Linked DNA regions of Homo sapiens: regions 2 and 3 are each linked to region 1. The links come from fine-mapping of genetic effects on gene expression. A gene starts in region 1. Each other region holds a variant in brackets. All regions are shown on one strand. Distances are between the middles of the regions.

Evidence for each region. PIP is the estimated chance that this variant, and not a neighbour inherited with it, causes the effect.
Region 2: its variant is the best candidate, but not a certain one, in a credible set for the expression of INPPL1 in whole blood (INTERVAL, PIP 0.59).
Region 3: its variant is the best candidate, but not a certain one, in a credible set for the expression of INPPL1 in whole blood (TOPMed, PIP 0.83).

What each region holds. Positions count from the first base shown.
Region 1 is chr11:72,222,947-72,227,186 of GRCh38, reverse strand. INPPL1 (inositol polyphosphate phosphatase like 1) reads right to left here and starts at 2,420. Exons shown (of 28, transcript NM_001567.4): 1 at 2,021-2,420. The coding sequence starts at 2,202. RefSeq lists an enhancer at 170-529 and silencers at 1,935-2,144, 2,155-2,514, 3,065-3,464, 3,705-3,934.
Region 2 is chr11:72,441,664-72,445,903 of GRCh38, reverse strand. No RefSeq gene overlaps it. Among named protein-coding and RNA genes, the nearest start is that of CLPB, 9.3 kb to the right of the region's middle. The variant G/A (reference allele first, on the strand shown) is at 2,419.
Region 3 is chr11:72,029,123-72,033,362 of GRCh38, reverse strand. It overlaps NUMA1 (nuclear mitotic apparatus protein 1), which reads left to right. Exons shown (of 27, transcript NM_006185.4): 4 at 4,073-4,158. Among named protein-coding and RNA genes, the nearest start is that of NUMA1-AS1, 17 kb to the right of the region's middle. The variant G/T (reference allele first, on the strand shown) is at 1,820.

The DNA of each region.
Region 1 (4,240 bases):
AGCCAGGGCCAGTATCCTAGCTTGCTGGTCAGATTGCCTGTGCCTGCTGGGGCAGGGGCGTGTCTTGCATGTTATCCATGAACACCCGGAATGTATACAGGTAAGCAAGTATGTGTGTATTTGGCAAATCTAAGATATTGCCCACGTCTGATCGCCCACGTCTGATCCTTACCCCCAGGCTCTTGAGATGCGGGGAAGAGCCAGAGTCAGCTGGCAAACCTGAAGCCCCCACTCACAGACAGACCCCTCACCCCATTCACAGCCTCCCTTGGCAATGAGGCCAGGATTCTCCCCCTCCTGGGACAATAATGTTCCTCACCCAGACACAGGCCCCAGCTGTCCCCCTCCCACTCAACAGCTGACCCAGCACCTGCCTCCCTCCCCAGCCTAATTAGGGGGTATGCCTCAGAGGGGGCTGGGAAGCAGGACTTGGGGATATTCATCTGCCTAGTCTGTCCCTCCTTAGTCTCCCCCTACTGGGCCTCAGACTTGAGGCCTAAGCTAAGACTTATAGGGCCCCTTCCTTGTTGGGTCAATTGCCTAGGCTAGAGTTTTTCAACCTCCATACCACTGACATTTTGGATTGCACAGTTCTTTGTTGTGGGGGACTCTCTTGTGCACTGTAGAATGTTTAGCAGTATCCCCGGCTTCTACCCACTAGATGTCAATAGCACCATCCCAGTTGTGACAATTAAAAATGTCTCCCCAGCTGGGCGAGGTGGCTCCACCTGTAATCCTAGCACTTTGAGAGGCCGGGGCAGGTGGATCACTTGAGGTCAGGAGTTCAAGACCAGCCTGGCCAATATGGTGAAACCCCATCTCTACTAAAAATACAAAAATTAGCTGGGCTTGGTGGCGAGCGCCTGTAATCCCAGCTACTGGCGAGGCAGAGGCAGAAGAATCACTTGAATCCAGGAGGCGGAGGTTGCAGTGAGCCGAGATTGCACTACTGCACTCCAGCCTGGGCAACAGAGCGAGACTCTTTCTCAAAAAAAAAAAAAAAAAAAAAGGTCTCCCCTGGTCTAGGCTAATGTGCGCCCCGACCAAAGATGTCAGGAGAACAAAGGGGTAAGGAAGGTACAGTGGGACAGGAGTTTGGGAGGGGGTTCACAGAGCTAAGAAAGATCTAAATAAAGATCTAAATAACTGATCTAAATAAAGCAGCCCCCACAGATTCCCACTCACTGGGCCCACAGAAGCCAACTCAATGTCAGACTGCAGGGCAGGAGGTACAAAGCCGCTAGAAGGCTGCAAAACCAAGAGTGCTAACTCACCCCAGCACCACTACCAACCACACTGGGCTGAAAGGCACAGCCACAGGACCTGGCCCACTCAGAGAAGCACCAAGTCTGGCTCTGCTCTCACTCAGCACTCATAGCTCAGGGCTAGGGCAGCCAGGTAACCAGGGCTCAAGCCCAGAGCCAGGGCTCAAACACTCACTCATTGGTTCAGAAATAATGGCAAGGTCCCATACAGCCTCAGCCTCTGCTTCCCCAAGCCTTCCTCTCTACACCACCCATCACCGCCCCCACCACCCATACACGGCCAGGCAGAACCCCAAAGCACCGAAAGGGGCCCTAAGGAAGCTGCCAGGCATCCCCACACACCCCGTCAGTCCCTCTGCCCCGACTCCCTCTCCTGCTCACCACTCAGTCCCTATCCAAACGGGACTGCACACAACGTGGAATGCACATCCTCTCCCCTGCTCCCTTCTACCTGGAGGATGCCTGAAGGGGTCTGCCGGGGAATGCCCGAATTTTTCGTCATCACAGTCACACTGGGCCACAGAACCCCATATTCTCTACCCTCAAGGCTCCTGAAAGTGCCCCCAGACACACAGCAGGAAGTGCCCCTGCGTCCCTCCTCAGACCCAGGAGAAAGCCAAGGCTCCCACTCTGGGGGGTGGAGGCGGGTCTGGCGTCCCACCGCCCCAGAAACCCTCACCCGGGCCCTTTCCACACCCGGCCGTGCCCGCGCTCCCGGTCCACGCCAGCCCGCAAGGAGCCCCCGCCCCACTCACAGGACGCAGAGCGCGAAGGCCCCCGCCACGCTCTCGCTGTCTCGGACCAGGAAGCTGCCATCGCGGCCCGCCCGGGCCAGCAGCTCCTCCGCGGCCGCCCGGCTCAGGTCGCGGTGGTACCAGGAGGGGGCCTGGCTGCCCAGGGCGCCCCCCGGGCCCGGCGCCCCGCAGGCCGAGGCCATGGCCCGCGCAGGGCTCAGCACCGCCCGCCCCCGCCGCCCCGCGCCATCCGCCCCGAGACGCTCAGGGCTGAGGCTGGGGCCGGGCCCGGGGCCCGGGCTTGAGGATCCGTGGGCCGGACAGAGCCGGGGATCGGGACTCAGCACTCCGCCGCGCAGGCCGCCTCGTTCACCGCGCAGCCGCCGCTGCCTGCAGCGCCGGCCTCAACTTGAAGAGAAAGAAAAGTTTGTTCAGAGGCGGCGGGGGAGGGGCAGGAGCGGAGCGCAGGGCCGGCTGCCGCCCCCTCCCCCTCCGCTCGGCCCGCAGCCCGGGCCGCCCCTGCCCCCAGCTCCTCCTGCGGGGACGGTGCCCCCACCTTCCCGAAGGGCCCGGGACCTCCCAGACCCCACAATGATCCTGCCCCCATCATTCACCCGAGGAGATCCAGTCCCCAAATCCCCATCGAAATCCGAGTCCCCCCATCCTGGCCCCGACACTTCGGGATCCAGGCACCCCCTGGAGAATTCAGCGCTTCTCAGTTCTCCCAATGATATGACCCCTAAGCCCCATAAAGGTCTGATTCCACTCCATGGCTCTTCCTCTCGTCCCCCTTACAGCTTGGCTGCATCGAGTTCCCCAAACCTGCGAAGGATCCAGGACCACCCCCTACCCATCCTCTTCCCTCCACCCAAGCGGGCGGGGCCCCCAACTCCTGCGAAATGCAGCCCCCTCTTAGATCTGAACCCCCAACTCCACGGGAACCGTCCCCCGGCAAAGCCTGCGGGGAGATTCCCTGGCTAACCAGGCTTCTGAAGATTCTTACTCTGGCGGGGGGCCCAGACGAGGTGCGACGTTCTCGAGCCTCTCACGCAGCCCCTCCCAGCCCCGCAGAGCCCTTCCCCCTCTCGGCCAAGTTCCCCAGCACCACCCCCCACACCCGCAGGCCGGGCCTTGAGGGGGTTCAGCAGTCCGAAGCCAGGAGGATCCCTGGCCCGTCTAGTAGAAAGTTCCCTCCCGGGATCCCGGCCGCCGCACGCAGACCCCCACCTCCCGGGCTGCTCCGGCGCCCCCTTCCCCGGACAGCGGCCCTGGGCTCCAGGCGGCCACTTAAGATGGCCATCCGCGCGCGCCCCCGCCCTCCGCGCCGCCCGCCCCGCCCCGCGCCGCCCCGGGGAGCCGGGGGCAGCACCGCGCCTCGCCTCACCCCGCCCCGCGCCTCGGTCCCGGAGCCGCTGGCCCACTGGGTGACCTCGGGCAAGTCGCGGCGCGGGGTTGAGCGTCGGCTTCCCGCTCTGGAAAATGGGGATCCTGTGGCGAGGGCCGGCTCTGGGGGCCGAGCTCGTACCGCGCTCGGCACCGGGCCTGGCGCCCAGCCCGCGCTCCCGAACGGCGGCTATTTTTATTATTAATTAAGGAGAAACGAAGGTGACAGCTGTGTAAACTGTAAAGCGCGGCTGCGGAACGAACGGGTATTATTAGCACTCGCCCCCGCCCCAGCGGCTCCCTCCGAGTCAGCAAACTCGCGCCTCCGCGGGCCGGACGCCCAGCGGGGAGCTCCCAGACGGGGTCCGCTGCAACGCCCCCCTAGCTTCCTCCCCTCCAGCCGAGGGCGGAAGGGGGACGCGGCAGCCGCAAAGGGGGCGGAGCCCATAAAAGGGTCTGGCCCGCCCCCTCCCAAAAAAAGACCTAGCCGGTGGCGGCGTCTCCGGGGAGTCGTCTTCCTGCCCCGCCCCTCCGCCCCCTGGCTCCTTAAAGGCGCAGGCCTCCAGCCGGGCGCCCGCCGCCACCATCTCCTGGGCCGCCGTGGGAGAATCCCTTTAACCTGGGAGAGAACTTTCACTTTGCTACGTTGAACCTGTTGACGGAGCCCGGGTCAGTCCCTCGAGCTCCTTCCTCTATTTCAAATATGCATTGACTTAACCCAGCTGGAGCAGAGCCTGGGACGTGGAAGGGGCTCTGTGGGGCCTTCCACACTAGATAAATATAATAACTAAGAGATCCACCCACCCACCCAACAGTGCCTCCAGAACCCAATAACTCATCCTACAATCTGTGCCACCG
Region 2 (4,240 bases), 220 kb before region 1:
CCATCACTTCCAAAAGTTTCTTGTGCCCCTTTGTAAACCCTTCCTCCCACTACCCCTGTAATCCTATCATCCCCATGCAATCACTGTTCTGCTTTATGTTACTATATACAGTATTTGCTTTTATTTTCTAGAATCTTATAAAATTGGATAATACAATGTGTAGTCTGTGTTTGCTTGCTTGCTTATTTATTTGTAGAACTGACTTGCTTCATTCAGCATTAATATCTTGAGGTTCATCCATGTCATTGTGCATATCAATAGTTCCTTTTTATTGCTGAGTCACACTCCATTGTATGGATATACCACAATTTGTTTATCCTTTTATGTATTGATAGAAGTTTAGGTTGTTTTTGAAACCAATCCAATAGTCCCAAAGATGGTTCTTTTTGATAAACATAGAAATTGACCCTCCTGATCTTAAAGCTTGAAATTTATATTTGTTTTATCTGAGTTCCTTCCTCAGGAAACAACCTTCAGGCCTCTGGAAAAAGTATCAAAGAACTGAAACTCAATGGATCACAGCACCAGATGACAACCCCTCATTCATTATGATTGCTTCCTTTGCCCCTCCCTAGTTCCTGTTTTTTTACACATTGTTACATTTCTTCCCTGATGTATAAACCCCTAGTTTTAATCAGTCAGGGAGATGGATTTGAGACTGAGCTCCCATCTTCTAGGCTGTAGCACCAAGAAAGGGGAGCAGCAGGCCTGACCTAAGCCACACCCCTGACCTAGACCAAACCCTTGACCTAGACCAAACCTCTAGTATATGGAAGAAGCAGGACCCTCCCTGGACCTAGACCAAACCCCTGGTGTTTTGGTAATATTTTTAGTTTGTAGCTTTTACAAAGTTGCTATGAACATTCATGTACAAGTCTTTGTGTGAGCATATGTTTTTGTTTTCCTTGGATAATAAATCTAAAAGTTGGAATGACTGGATCATATGGTACATGCTTGTTTAACCTCTAAAGAAACTGCCAAATTGTTTTCAAAAGTGGTTGTACCATTTCACATTCCCCTTCAGCAGTATATGAGAGTTCCAGTTGCTCCACATCGTCATGTGGTACGGCCAGTCTTTTTAATCTTAGACATTTTAATACATATATAATTCATGGTTTTAATTTTTATTTCTCTAAAGAGCAATGATATTGAGGGTGTTTTTTAGCGTTCTTATTTGACAGTAAGAAGTTATCTCTCCAAATCTTTTTTCCAACATAAAAATTGGGTGGTTTTCTTATCATTGAGTTTTGAGAATTCTTTTCATATTCTGATGTAAGTTCCTTACTGGATGTATAATTACAAATATTTTCTCCACTCTGCAGCTTATCCATTCTCTTAACAGTGGCTTTTGAGGAGCAAAAGTTCCTAATGTTGATGAAGTCAAATTGATCTTTTTTTTTTTCTTTTATGCATTGTGTTTTTCATGTTGTATCTAAGAAATCTGCTTTATCCAAAGCCACAAAGATTTTCTCCTATGTTTTCTTCAAGAAATTTTGGAGTCTTAGGTTTTACATTTAGGACAATAATTCATTTTGAGTTCATTTTTGTATATGCTGTAAGATATGGATCACTATAGTTTTAATTTGTATGTTTCTTGTCATGGGTGTATTGAGCATATTTTCATATATTTAAATATGATTTATATTTCATTTCTCATGAGGTCTTTGGTCAAGTCCTTTGCCCAGGCAGCTGTGTTTGGATATGCAGTTCGTGTGCCACTCAAAAGCCTAAACCAATAGGAGAAGTGGAGGCTGCAGTCTGGCAGCATGCTGCTCCCTGGGACATGTACACTGCTTAGGGGCCCCTTTTTCTAATTCATCCTGAGATGGCTGCTTTCTTTACTTTTCCCAGAGGCACTGCATAAGCTAGCAGAGGCATTGTCTTTGTTCACTTACTGCATTGTAGGTCTTTTTCATATTTTATAAGAGTTCTCTGTATTACTTAACCCTCCATCATTGTGGTGTGAATATATTCTTCCGAGATTATCATTTACATTTTTTACTGTTCATGGTATTTTTCAATCAGAATAATTACTTGTAGAGTCAAATACATCAGTCTTTGCTATTGTGGGTCTGAATTTTGTGTCGTGCTTAGAAAGCTTCCCTACTCCAAAGTTATTTTGAAAAATCACTTCATGTTTTCTTACTGGCATGTTTATTGTTTCTTTTTCACATTTAAGTCTTTTGATTCAGTTGGCATTTATTTTGGTGAAGGGGTGAGACAAATCTAATTTATTTTTTCCCCAGTTGGCCACCTAGTTGTCCCAACACTGTTTATTAAATAATTAATATTTTCCCCACTTACGTAAAGTGCCAGATTTATCACAAACTAAATTCTCATCTTTAATGTAATAAGAGGACATATTACCCTGCCCAGAGGCCACATGCTACACTTTGATTCTATGGGAAAGAAACAGAT[G/A]ACAAGAAAAGGAGGCAATTAAGAGATTTGTTTATTTTCAGAGCATGATTTGAGTTAGTGCTTAAGAGTTCTACATCTATCATGTGATACAAAAATCAGGATAGCAATAACCTTTATCAGGAAAAGATTAAATTGTATTTACTATCTTCTATTTGTGAATAAGGAAAGTGTTCAATATTTTTGAGAAAAAGTAATGCAGAAGACTTTACACACACACATACACACACACACACACACAAGTTCCTTCGTTAGGAAAAGTTGTGTAATGGCTAAGACTTTGGGCTCTGACTCAACATAAGCCTGTGATGCTACTAGTCTCTAACTTGTGTTAATGTAGGGATTGAGTTTATTCATGTAAAGTGCTTATTAGCACAATGCCAGACTCAGAATACATGCTCAATATTCAGTAGCTGTTAACTTCTATTTTTGAAAAATGCTTAGATGAGTTTCTCCAAGATTTCTCAGATGTGGTTTACCTGCTATCACTGAGGGATTGTGCCTTCATTGACTGGAGAGATCACATGGAAAACATGCCTACCAAACCTGGGAGAAACTTACCTGATCATTTATATAGATAATTGATGTGGTTCACTTACTCAGCACAGTGGCTGGAACATAGAAAATACTTAATAAAACTTCCTGTTATTATTAATAATAAATCATTTTGTCTTAGTTATTCCAAAGAAGAATTGTAGAAGAGTGGACCTGAAGACAGTGCTATGGCAATATGCAGCAGGATCAGCAGAAAGTGAATTCTTTTTTTTTTTTTTTGAGACGGAGTCTTGCTCTGTCGCCCAGGCTGGAGTATAGTGGCACGATCTCGGCTCACTGCAACCTCCGCCTCCCAGTTCAAGCAATTCTCTTGCCTCAGTCTCCCGAGTAGCTGGGACTACAGGCGCCCACCACCATGCCCGGCTAATTTTTTGTATTTTTTAGTAGAGAGGGGGTTTCACTGTGTTAGCCAGGATGGTCTCCATCTCCTGACCTTGTGATCCGCCGGCCTCGGCCTCCCAAAGTGCTGGGATTATAGGCATGAGCCGCCATGCACAGCCCAAAGAGTTCTCTTATATCCTCCACTCCACTTCCCCAATGTGAACATCTTATATAACCATAATACAATGATCAAGAACAGGAAATTAACATTTATACAATATCATTAACTAAACCTTAGAATTTATTTGAAATTCATCAATTTTCCCACTAATGTCCCTTTTCTGTTCCCTGGTCCTATCCATGATTACACAGTGCATTTAGTATTTATTTCTTCTCAATCCCCAGTCTGTAACAGCTTCTCAGTCTTTCCTTATCTTTCGTGACCTTGACACTTTTGCAGAGTACTGTGACAGGCAGAATTCTAAGATGATCCCTAAGGTTTCCACCGCTGAATGTACATACCTTGTATACACTCTTGAGTACAGGCAGAACCTGTGAATGTGATGGGATATCACTCCTGTGATAACATTACTTATCGGTTCACTTTGACTTATCAAAAGAGAGATTATCTGGGTGGGCCTGATCTAATCAGGTGAGCCCTTTAAAATAACCAGGCCCTTCCTGAAGTCAGAGAAGCTTGCTTGCAAGTATGAGAGAATCTAAGGAAGTGGTTACATGGCAAAGACCCAAGAGTTTTTTCCAGGAGCTGAGAGGTTCTCAGCTGCTGCTGGCTAGCAATACAGCCTCAGTCCCACAGCTGCTAGGAAATGATTTCAACCAACAGTGTAAGGCAGCTTGAAAAACTACCTTTGCCTGGTGGGCATGGTGGCTTATGCCTGTAATCCCAGCACTGTGGGAGGCCAAGATGGGTGGATCACCTGAGGTCAGA
Region 3 (4,240 bases), 190 kb after region 1:
AAGAACATGCATGAAAATGTTAAAGTATAGTTATATGTGCTGGGATCAGTAGTGCACACCTGTAGTCCCTGCTACTTGGGAAGCTGAGATGGGAGAATTGCTTGAGCCCGGGAGTTTGAGGTTGCAGTTAGCCATGATTGCATCTGTAAATAGCTGCTGCACTCCAACCTATAACATAGCAAGAGCCTGTCTCTTAAAAATATATATAAATATAGTATAGAGAATGTTTTCAATTTAAACAAAAGTTGTGGAGCTAAAGCAAATTTTATGAAACTGTAGTAGCATGAAATAATGCATCTGTTATGTTAGTGAGAAGAGTGGCATAGAACATACACATACACACACATGATAATTCCAACTACAGTTTAAAAAAAATTACCTAGAAAAAACGAAAGAAATACATCAAAATGCTAAAAGTACCTGTATTAAAATACTAGAATTATTGGGAGCTCTGTTTTTTGTCTTCTGAATTTTCAGTAATTTATAACATAAAAATAAATTAGTGGTTTATTTTATTAATACTTAAATTATAGCTTGAAACTATTCTGTAAACAGCAGTTAATAATGAATAAACTGTTACAGGGTATTTTAAGATTTGACAACCTTAAGCAACCTTGCAATCCTTAAAGGCAACTCTTGAGTTATGTGGTGAGCCTGGTCCTCACTCTCATGTTTTATGCCCTGACTAGAGATGAAGGAACTTCTCTACTTCCTCAACTTTTAAATGATTTCTCACTTGAGAGCAAAAATAACTCACAGGAAGAAAAAATATTTTTATATCCATGAAAGGAACTGTGGCTGGATTATTACTTAATTGGTATATGTGATGAATCCAGATTCCTTAGGAGACTTTACATCAGCTAATTGGTATGATTTTTTAGTCTTGTTAGTGAACAAGCATCCATAGTCCTTGAATGTTTTACCTAGATTGCAGGTATTGATAGGAGATGGTTTAGCCTTGGCAGTCTCTTCATTTTCTGCAGGTAAAATGGAATCTTGGCCTGAAGTTTTCAGAATCTTCCTAGAAAACTTACAATGACCTGTCCTGACCAATTAGATTGAGCTTTTTTCAAAAGACAGTAAAAATATATTATAAATATATTAGCAAACTCTTTAAGACGTCAATAAGTCATATTTTATTTCACGTTAAAAAAAATTTTAATCTGTTTTAACTGGGATTCATCTAAAAGATTCCGCTTTTTGAGATAGGGTCTTGCTCTGTGACCCAGGCTGGAATGCAGTTGCAGCTTCATAGCTCACAGCAGCCTGGAACTCCTGCACTCAAGCAATCCTCTGCCTCCCACCTTAGCCTCCTGAGTAGCTAGGACCACAGGCATGCACCACCATGCTGGGCTATTTTTCCTTTCTCTCTCTTTTTTTTTTTTTTTTTAATTTTTTGGGGAAAGGGTCTTGCTATGTTGCCTAGGCTGATCTCAAACTCCTGGCCTCAAGCGATTCTCCCTCCTCGTCCTCCCAAAGCACTGGGATTACAGGCATGAGCCACCACACCTAGCCTAAATGTTGTATTTATTTATTTATTTATTTTTTTGAGACAGGGTCTCAATCCGTTGGCCAGGCTAGAGTGCAGTGGTGTGATCATAGCTCGCTGTAGCCTTGACCTCCCAGGCTCAAGCGATCTTCCCACGTCAGCCTCCCGAGTAGCAGGGACTACGCGAGCATACAGGCGCAAGCCACCTCACCCAGCTAAAAATTTTTTTAAATTATTATTTTGTAGAGCCAGGGTCTCCTTATGTTGCCCAGGCTGGTCTTGAACTCCTGGCCTCAAGCAGTCCTTCCACCTCAGCCTCCCCAAGTGCTG[G/T]GATTACAGGCATGGGCCACTGCGCCTGGCCTAAAAGTTGTTTTTAAATGTGAAAGTGTTTAACTCAAATAAATACTATCATGTCTGTAGAGAAATCATTGATTTTTAAAAATCCTCTTAATTCTATAGTGCATGCAGCTAACTTAACTATTAAGAAATACAAATGTTATGTCTACTTCATTATTTTAATTTTATTAACCATAATAGTGCTTTATGTTTATTAGTTTTTCTTTTTTCTTTTTTTTTTTGAGATGTCTCTGTTGCCCAGGCCACAGTGCAGGGACACTATCATAGCTCATTGTAACTTCTCCAGCTCCTGGGCTCAAATGATCCACCTACCTCAGCCTCTTATGTAGGTAGGACTTACAGGCACATGTCACCATGTCCAGCTTGCTTGCTTGCTTATTTATTTATTTAGTAGAGACAAGGTATTGTTATGTTGCCCAGGGTGGTCCTAAACTCCCAGCCTCAAGCAGTCCCCCTACCTCAGCCTCCCAAAGTGCTGGGATTACAGGTGTGAGCCACTGCACCTGGCCTACTTTATATTTTTTAATGTGTTCTTGCATCCATAATCCCATTTGAGCTCACACTGGTCCTTTGAAGTAGATAAAGTAGGGATTCCATCCATTTGGCAAGGGAGGAAACTAGTGCAGAGAGAAATAAAGTTTGTAACAAAGGTTGCTGGCAAGTTTGTGGAGGAGCTGGGCCCAAAGTGTGTATGTACTGGCTCCCAGCCCAAATATAGAGAACACATTTGTAAGCAATAGAATCTAGTTGTCTGCACATAACCACTATGCTGAAGTTCTTTAAAATACCTTGTTTCTTAAAGCAGGCTCAGTCTCTCTCCCCTCTTAGTGTTGAATATGTGAATAATTAACTTAGCAAACCCTTTCTTCCTATAGTAATAAAAACGTAAACTTCAGCCCAGGCTACTTCTGAACTGTAGTGCCTGTGGAATTCATGAGGTTTTCCTGTAGAGGTTGACCATGTATACTTATTGAATAACCTGTGTACCTGATGTGTGTGACCCCTGGTGAATATTCTAGTGGTAAAAACTGATTTAAATGTATGCCTATCTGAAGCCAAAGAATGGGAACAGGCAACTAAATTAGAATTAAGAAGTTTTTCTTTGAAATTCCCAGCTCCTATTCTTTCATCCCCCACCGCCCCCTTTTTTTTTCTTTTCTTTTCTTTTTTTTTTTCCTTTGGAGACAGGGTCTTGCTCTGTCACTCAGGCTAGAGTACAGTGATGCAATCCCAGCTCACTGCAGCCTCGACCTCCCTGGGCTAAGGTGATCCTCCCACCTCAGCCTTCTAAGTAGCTGGGACTACAGGTATGTGCCACCACTCCTGGCTAATTTTTTGTATTTTTTGTAGGACAGGGTTTCACCATGTTGCCCAGGTTGGTCTTGAACTCCTGAGCTCAAGTGATCTTCCCGCCTCAGCCTCCCAAAGTGCTAGGATTACAGGTGTGAGCCACCGCGCTTGGCTCCCTCCACCCCCTTTTTAAAAAATCATCTTGTTCCCCTATTGTTTTTCCCTTCTCCCCTCAGCCAAAGCTTTATGTGTGGAAAGAATAAAAATGTATTAATAAGATTTTATATCTTTGTGGGAGTGTATAGCATATATGTAATATTTAAGTTTTGAATAGATATTTCAAAACTCAAGAGCCACAAAGGGCTATAATATAAAATGTATTAATAAGATTTTATATGTTTGTGGGAGTGTATAGCATATATGTAATATTTAAGTTTTGAATAGATATTTCAAAACTCAAGAGCCACAAAGGACTATAATATAAAAATCCAAGGGATACAGAAACTTATAATGTAAACGTTCAAGAAATACAAAGAGCTATAATACATTCAAGAGCTACAGAGAGTTATAATGTAAGAGCCTTTCTTTTCCCACCTCAGACTCCCTGCTGTCAAGTTCCTCTCTTTAGAAGCAGTGGTAGTACCAATTTATTGGTGTATCCTTCCAAAATACTCCCAGTGCTGGAACATCTTAGGAAAGTTTAAGCTTTTATTTAGTTGAAGCCAAAGGAAGGGCTCTCTGATGGTTGCATTTCAGGTGGCTGTAACTGGATGAGTGAGTGCAACGGCACTCCTTCCTGAAATTAAAAACCTGAGAATCATCAGTTCTTGTATTCCTATAGTCTACAACTGTAAGCACTCACATTAAGCCTCTGGGAAAAGGAGCAAACCATGTTGCTTCTAACGGTCTCACTAGGCTGTTCCCTTTGATTTACAGGTGAACAGTCTACACGTGGCTGACCCTGTGGAGGCTGTGCTGCAGCTCCAGGACTGCAGCATCTTCATCAAGATCATTGACAGAATGTGAGTACGCACCATACCCCTTTCTAGCCTCTAAGGCAAAGCTGATTGCTGGGGTGGGGGCTGTACTTGTTCTCTTTACTTG